2 linked regions of the Homo sapiens genome follow. The protein of the gene in region 1 purifies or fractionates together with the protein of each later gene. This does not show direct contact. Each region holds a gene or a part of one and is shown in the gene's direction. Other genes may lie near its edges.

Evidence for each region. Proteins that work in one complex are often made in the same cells at the same time.
Region 2: the proteins of DCAF8L2 (region 1) and MYO5B purify together in Homo sapiens (affinity purification with mass spectrometry; one large-scale study listed by BioGRID and IntAct). This does not show direct contact.

The regions. Positions count from the first base shown.
Region 1 is NC_000023.11:27,743,844-27,747,343, forward strand, and holds part of DCAF8L2 (DDB1- and CUL4-associated factor 8-like protein 2), read left to right. Parts: intron 1-2,614; exon of another isoform or gene 2,615-2,835; intron 2,836-2,994; 5' UTR 2,995-3,052; coding exon 3,053-3,500.
Region 2 is NC_000018.10:50,188,552-50,192,191, reverse strand, and holds part of MYO5B (unconventional myosin-Vb), read left to right. Parts: intron 1-3,640. UniProt on the Homo sapiens protein: May be involved in vesicular trafficking via its association with the CART complex. The CART complex is necessary for efficient transferrin receptor recycling but not for EGFR degradation.

The DNA.
Region 1 (3,500 bases):
CACCTCAGCCTCCCAAGTAGCTGGAATGACAGATGTGTGCCACCATATCCGGCTAATTTTTTGTATTTTAGTAGAGATGGGGTTTCACCATGTTGGCCAGGCTGGTCTCAAATTCCTGACCTCAAATGATATGCCCACCTCAGCCTCCCAAAGTGCTGGGATTATAGACGTGAGCCACCAGGCCTGGCCTGTTTACAAATATTAATGTCAGGAGTTAAACATCTTCAAGTCCAACCTATGATAAAAGACCAATGCTTCCTACTACTTGCATGGGGTTCACTATTTACTTTTTCTCGGGAGTATCACAGGAAGATCACAATTACACCACTTTAGACTGTACACGCAGCAATTCACAACTTACTCCTGTGTGTTTAGGTGTATCTGGAAGACCTGTATCTGTTAATGAACATTGTTTACTGTCATAGAGGGGAAAATAAGATTCCTGCATCTGGGCCCTTGACTGATAATTAAAGGGGTTCCTGTTACCTGCTCTCCCTGTTACATGCATCTGTCCACTTGGCTAACTTTTAATATGTATATTTTTATATTATGTAAATTCTTAACAGGCCTATCTCATTTAAATTGTATACACCATTATATCTGACATTATTGTAACTACTGTACAATCAATAAAATTCCTATAAGAAACACTGCTTAAAACAAATATCATGCTGAGGGGTGACCTATATCCCACATTAGTTGGTGGTCACTTTATTTATAGGATGCTTAAAATAAATATATTTTAATGAACTAAGTTGAAGAAAAGCACAATTAAAAGCTATCAAAAAAACTGATGCCCAGTGTTGAAAGTGGGGCCAGGTGGGAGGTGTTTGGATCATGGGGATAGATCCTTCATGAATGGCTTGGTGCCTTCTCTCCAGGTAATGAGTAATTTCTCACTCTATTAGTTCTCACAAGATGTGATTGTTATAAAGAGTTTTGCACCTCCTCTTTTCCTGCTCCCTCTCTTACCACGTGACACTCCCGCTCCCCTTCTCCTTCTGCCATGATTAAAGCTTCCTGAGTTCCTCACTAAAAGCAGAACTTGGTGCCTGCCTCTTGTACAGCCTGCTGACCTTTTAACCAAGTAAACCATTTTTCTTTTTAACTTACCCAGCCTCAGCTATTCCTTTAGAGCAAAGCGAAATGGACTAAGACACTTCCTTTCCTGGACAATTCCTTTATGGGTATGTTAGGGTTTGATGCTCTAGGTTTCCTGTTTTTGTGTTCCATGGCTGAGCAAGACCCCTTGTTTATGAACATGAATTCTTTTAAAGAATTACTATGCAATATATCATACACATAAAATGTATATGCCTAGCAATAAATAATAAAAAGAATAACTGGACACCTATACTCAGGATAAGATATAAATATTGCCAAGAATTTTTGAAGTTACATCTTTCTCAGATTTCAACCTTCTTCTCTTTTTGAAATTTAATCATTATCCTGAGTTGTGAATCAATTACTTCCTTGCCTTTTTAAATGATGTTATTTTATATGAAAACAATATAGACTTGCAAAAAATTGAAATTATTGACTATCCTTGTTAATTGTGTTTTCACTCATCATTGTGTTAAAGATTCATCCGTGCTCATGTATTTAATTCTAGTCTAGTCATTCTCACTTCCATACATTATTCCATTATTTATCCATGTTATTCTTGATGGGCTTTTCAGTGGTTTTCAGTTTGCTGCGCTAGACTTTACAAGTTGCTATGAATACTGTTTACATATCTTTCTGTTACTATTGGCCTTGGAACCATCCATTTTCTTTAGAAGACTGTATACTTCTATTTTTAATCAATTTTGCATTTATCTTGCAATTATTCTGAGGGAAACTTTGTTTTCCTCATTCTGGCCTTCTTAGTTAGCAGTTTACTGTAGCCCTTTGAAAATATGCTGATATCACCTTAGATAATTCATTCAGAGAAACTATTAAATTAACACAGTAATGCCAATTAACTGTCTCTGTAGAGCTGTTTTCTGTTCCTTAGAGGCCCCACAGAAGCCTCGGACATGTTCTGGGTGATATGTAAAAGACTTTATAGTTCTATGACATCACATAATTTCCTTTTTTCACAAAATTGTGTTGGTGTTCCCTAAGTATCTTAAATTGAATTAACTCTAAATAAATATATAGGAACTCTGGTGGAATAAGAAAAAAGGAAGTACTACTTCTATCTCAAATAGGTGAAGCAATTACTCATTTCAGTGTCCACTTTCAATTGATCAGTTGATTTCAGCCTTCATTACACTGAGGGTCTAAATTCTTCTCACTAAAGGAGCCTGCCAGATTTAACAAATAAAAATAGAGGACACCATGTTAAATTTGAATTTCAGATAAATAATAAATAAAATTTTAGTGGCAATATATCTAATGTAACATTTGAGATCTACTCATACTAAAAAAAGTATTCATCCTTTATCTGAAATGCAATTAACTATGCATACCGTATTTTATCTGGCAACCCTATATCGATTCTACTAGTTAGAGCACTCAAGGTTTCCCTTAAGCTGTTCGATTTAAGATATTTCTTGTATGTCAAAAAGTCACTAGCTATGGGACACTTAGCTGACTTTTCACTGTTCTTGCCTACATCTTCATTTTATAGAGTACATTACCTTCAAGCAAAACACTGAGAGGCTTCTAAAAACTATTTTGCTTAAGGAGGATCACTTTTGCTCATGGTTCTCTAATAAGAACATTTTCCAAGGTGCAGCAAGTTTCGATCTTCAAAAACCCGCAGCTACTCACAGTGTAAGATGCCTGTCGGGGTGGGGCTCTGGGCCTGGAAAAACTAGAGCAGTCTGGATGCTGCGAGGCGGCGAGCAGGTAAGAAGCTTTTTGAACCTCATGGGATCCCATACTGGCAACTGCCTTGGCAGAATAGTTTATTTAGTCTCCTTTAGCCAATCAGATTGCTGTTTGATTGCCACGCGCTTACTTCCTTCACTACCATCAGTCCTAACCGCAGGCCAACTTTCTTCCCAGAGCTTTTAGGGGCCTGGCCTTTGCAGTTCCAGATCTACTACAGCAAACATCGTTCAAGATGTCCCACCAAGAAGGCAGCACAGACGGCTTACCAGACTTAGGGACTGAAAGCCTGTTCAGCAGCCCAGAGGAGCAGTCTGGAGCCGTGGCGGCGACAGAGGCCTCCTCAGACATTGACATAGCGACCTCAGAGCTGAGTGTGACAGTGACCGGAGATGGCAGTGATAGCAGGGATGGTGGATTCCCCAACGATGCCAGCACAGAAAATCGAAGCTCAGACCAAGAAAGCGCAAGTGAAGACATCGAACTTGAGAGCTTGGAGGACTTTGAGCATTTCCTCATGAGTGGTGAAAGTTTATTCCATTACCCTTTAGTGGGAGAGGAGGAGACAGAAAGGGAGGAGGAAGACGAAGAGATACAAGAGGAGGGAGGGGAGGAGGAGGAAGAGGAGGAGGAGGAGGAGGAGGAGGAGGAGGAGGAGGAGGAGGAGGAAGAAGAACAGCCTC
Region 2 (3,640 bases), on another chromosome or scaffold:
TCGGTCAGAATCATGTAAGCTGAACCAATTGAGATGTCTGTGGTGTTGGCTATTGTTTCTACCATTGTCAGCCCTCTTCAATTAGGGCACAAACAAGCTACATTTTTTTTTTTTTTCTCTCAAATGGGTGTGGATGGTCTGCTGGTACAGGCTTCATCTTTGACATCGCTTCGTCCCTTCTTCAAATGAATTATCCACTTAAAAACTGATTGTCCCCATAAACTTTTCATAAAGTCATGATTTCACAATTCTTCTCTCCACACTTCGTCATAAATTTGATGTTTGGTCTTGCTTCAATTTTAGTAGAATTCATGTTGCCCTGATAGGGGCTTCTTTTCAAACTGATGACTTAACTTTCTTAGTGCCTCAAACTAGACCCTGTTCTAGATCCCATTCATACTTGTTATAACAAGTATAAAACTATGGGTTTGTTTTGGTGCAGAAAACTCTGAAATCCATGTGAATTTTTTTCCATGATATGCATTTTCCATGACCTTGAAATAGTGCTCATATGAGGCTAATGGACAATTGAATAAACCCTTAATCTTCGGAGCCCTAGTTTTGAAGAACAAGAATTAATATCGGATTGCTTTTAAAGACAATACTTGTAGGAGAAAACACTCAATTTGATTTTTAGTTAGAAATGAATACATTGCATGTTAATTCTTAGGAATGATGAAGTAGTGGGAGTCTGAACTTGGGTTTCAGTGTACTTTTTCTCAGGTTATGGAGATGTACAAAACTGGTGTCACCAGAGAAAGGTCTTGGATATAAGACACTTAAAAAGTAGCTTCATTGGTGTGAGGGGTTGGCATAATTAATCCCAAACAAATATTAGAGTTCTTCCCTAAGGGCTGCTGGGCTGCACCTTGCTCTGTTAATGGGTTTCCAGTTCTTAATCATTTAGGGTCTTGATTATGAAATTAAGGAGATTTTCTGGGACCCAAGACAGTATCTTCTAGATTTATGTTTTGAGCAGTTGTTATTCTTCCTGGCAATTAACACACTTGTGCTTTACTATGAGAAGCAGTTGTGTAGTTGCCTAACCATGGTCTCCCCACTTGCCAAGCTGGCTTCTCAGTATGCATGTGAATCATAAGTTACACAGGGAAGTCGTGCCTGCTACTCAGATTCACTTTGTTTCTTAGAGATTATTCATTTTAGTGTATTATCAAAATAGCCAATGTTCCCTTTTATTTTTAACTTGCTAGTGGGCTTTCCTAATGTGATGAACACTGGAGCCAGACACACACATCAATGTATTATGTATGATGGAAATAATTACCCATTATGCTAACAGCATTTATACATTTTTGGGAATGGAAAATTTAAAGCCCTTTGATTATACCTGTTGCTTTTGTGATAGTTAGAAGATGTTATTATTGGAATATGAAACATTTAAATATATATTAGCTTGTATTAAATACTGTTCAGTAAGAAATTAGTGTATTTCTAGTTATCTAAGAAAATAGTTTCTTTTTCCCTCCATCCAATTAAATGTGTTCTTGCTCTTCTTGATCTGTTCCCTTCAAGTGGCAGTTTATATGTTATGTGATTTTTTTTTGGTAGGTCGGGGGCCAAAGGGCACTTCTCTTTGAACAGAGACACTCCTGTTCTCAGAAGACCCAACACCTCACCTTTGAGAAATTGTTTTCTTTGTAGTGAGGTTTTTCTGGATGGAGAAAGAGCACCAGTCAGTGCCAGACACTTTCAGGGTGATGTCAAAGTGAGTCAGTCTCATTCACTCTCACATCAGCTCCAAAGGTGGAGCTGATGATGGTCTCTGTTGTCACAGTGGCATGCATGTGGTCAGTGTGAGTGCTTGGCTTCCAACCCATTGGAAAAGACAATGTGGGCTTTGCTTTGCATAGATCCAGAAAGAAGCCCACACATGTGCAAGCATGGTGAATACCATTTCATCATGATGATTGCAGATAGTAGTCTGATTTTAAAGCATAAAATGTAACCTCTCCTTCTCAGGCTGAATAATACAACTCTTATCTATAGAAGAGTTACTTGGAACAAAAAATTTAAATACTGCTATTTCAAATACCTGGATTTTCAATATGCTACTTTGATTCTAGCCAGCAGAGTGAATGAGAAATCATCAAATTGAAACTGGTGCCTTGAAACCAGTGCCTTCAAATAACCTTTTTTCCTGCTTGGCTTCTAATTGATAGGTAGTGTCTGAGCAGTGGGTTTTTGAGTGCTGCTGGGAGGTTACTTTACTGGCAGACACACCATATGTATGGCAGCTTTGCACCCAGGAGCCTTTACTAAGGGCGCGATTTGGGACCAATCATTTGAAAAATAGATCTTCTGTGCTTTTGGGCAGGTGTCCTTTAACAGTCCCTTACCTATACCTCAGGTAATGTAAGTTTCTCCCAAGTGTCAGTCTGAAGGCAGCAAGAGCCACCTGTTTCCTCTGTACCCAGTCACCCCTGCTGGAGGGGCTGATGATTCCTTCTTTTGCTGGTGGCTCTGAGTGATGTTCTTTTTTCCAAAAAGTGGTGACAGTGTTAAAGACATGAGGACTTGAAAAGTGTCAGCAGATGCTGTTAGTGCTCCTATTGTTTCCCCCTTACTCCCTTCCCTGCATACTGCCTTGGTGTTAGCTCACTCCCAATAGCCAGCACCCATCTCTTTGTCAAAGCTCCTGAAGCTGTTTTGCCTGTGTGCATAGGGAGCCTGGGAATTGACACTCTGCAAAAGGGAACAGTCCTTAACCAATGGCACTGTAATGACATTAGTTTCCTATCTTGTCACCTTGAGAATGGAACAGCTCTAAAGTATGACCCATACTGTTTTCAGTTTCTTTGTACAGTTGAACTAAAGTTACCATGCTTGGGACTTTCCTTAGTATCACATGTTAGCTTGACTTCCTTCCCTCTCTTGTCCACCTTCTCTACTCCCCTACCAGTCTTTTCCGGAAAACACTGCCTTACAAGTCTCTTGAGCAGGAATCCTTGTCTCAGGATCAGATTCTAGGAGCCCAAGTTAACCATAACTCATGGTGGCTTAGCTTAGTGGATGTTGAGAATCTCAAGGGCTTTGGCCCCTCTATGGTCCCAGGAAAGGCTGAAAAGAAGCATGGAGGTTGTGTGTCATGCTGTCACTTTCCTTCTGAGGCTCATTCTCTGTCTTGCATGTGGTTTTTTTCTTCTCTCATCCCTAGTTCCAATTCCGTTGATCCTCTGCTCCCCGTTTTCAGATGGGCCTATAAGCCCAGTGGATCCTGCTTCACCATGTTGGCGATCATCAGAATTTTGAAGTTTGTACTTGTGACTTGTGGATGTGGCATATTCCAATGGCCTGTAACCTGTAATCATTGAGCAGGCTCTTGCCCTGCCCTCCTTTGTTGATAGGTGTGTGTGTTTTTTTTTTTTTTTTTTTTTTTTTTTTTTTTATGACAGAGTCTCACTGTGTCACCAGTCTAGAGTGCAGTGGAACGATCTCAGCTCACTGCAACCTCTGCCTCCTGGGTTCGAGTGATTCTGCGGCCTCAGCCTCCTGAGTATCTGGGACTACAGGTGTGTGCCACCACTCCCGGCTACTTTTTGTATTTTTAGTAGAGACGGGGTTTTACCATGTTGGCCAGGATGGTCTCAATCTCTTGACCTCATGATCTACCCACCTCAGC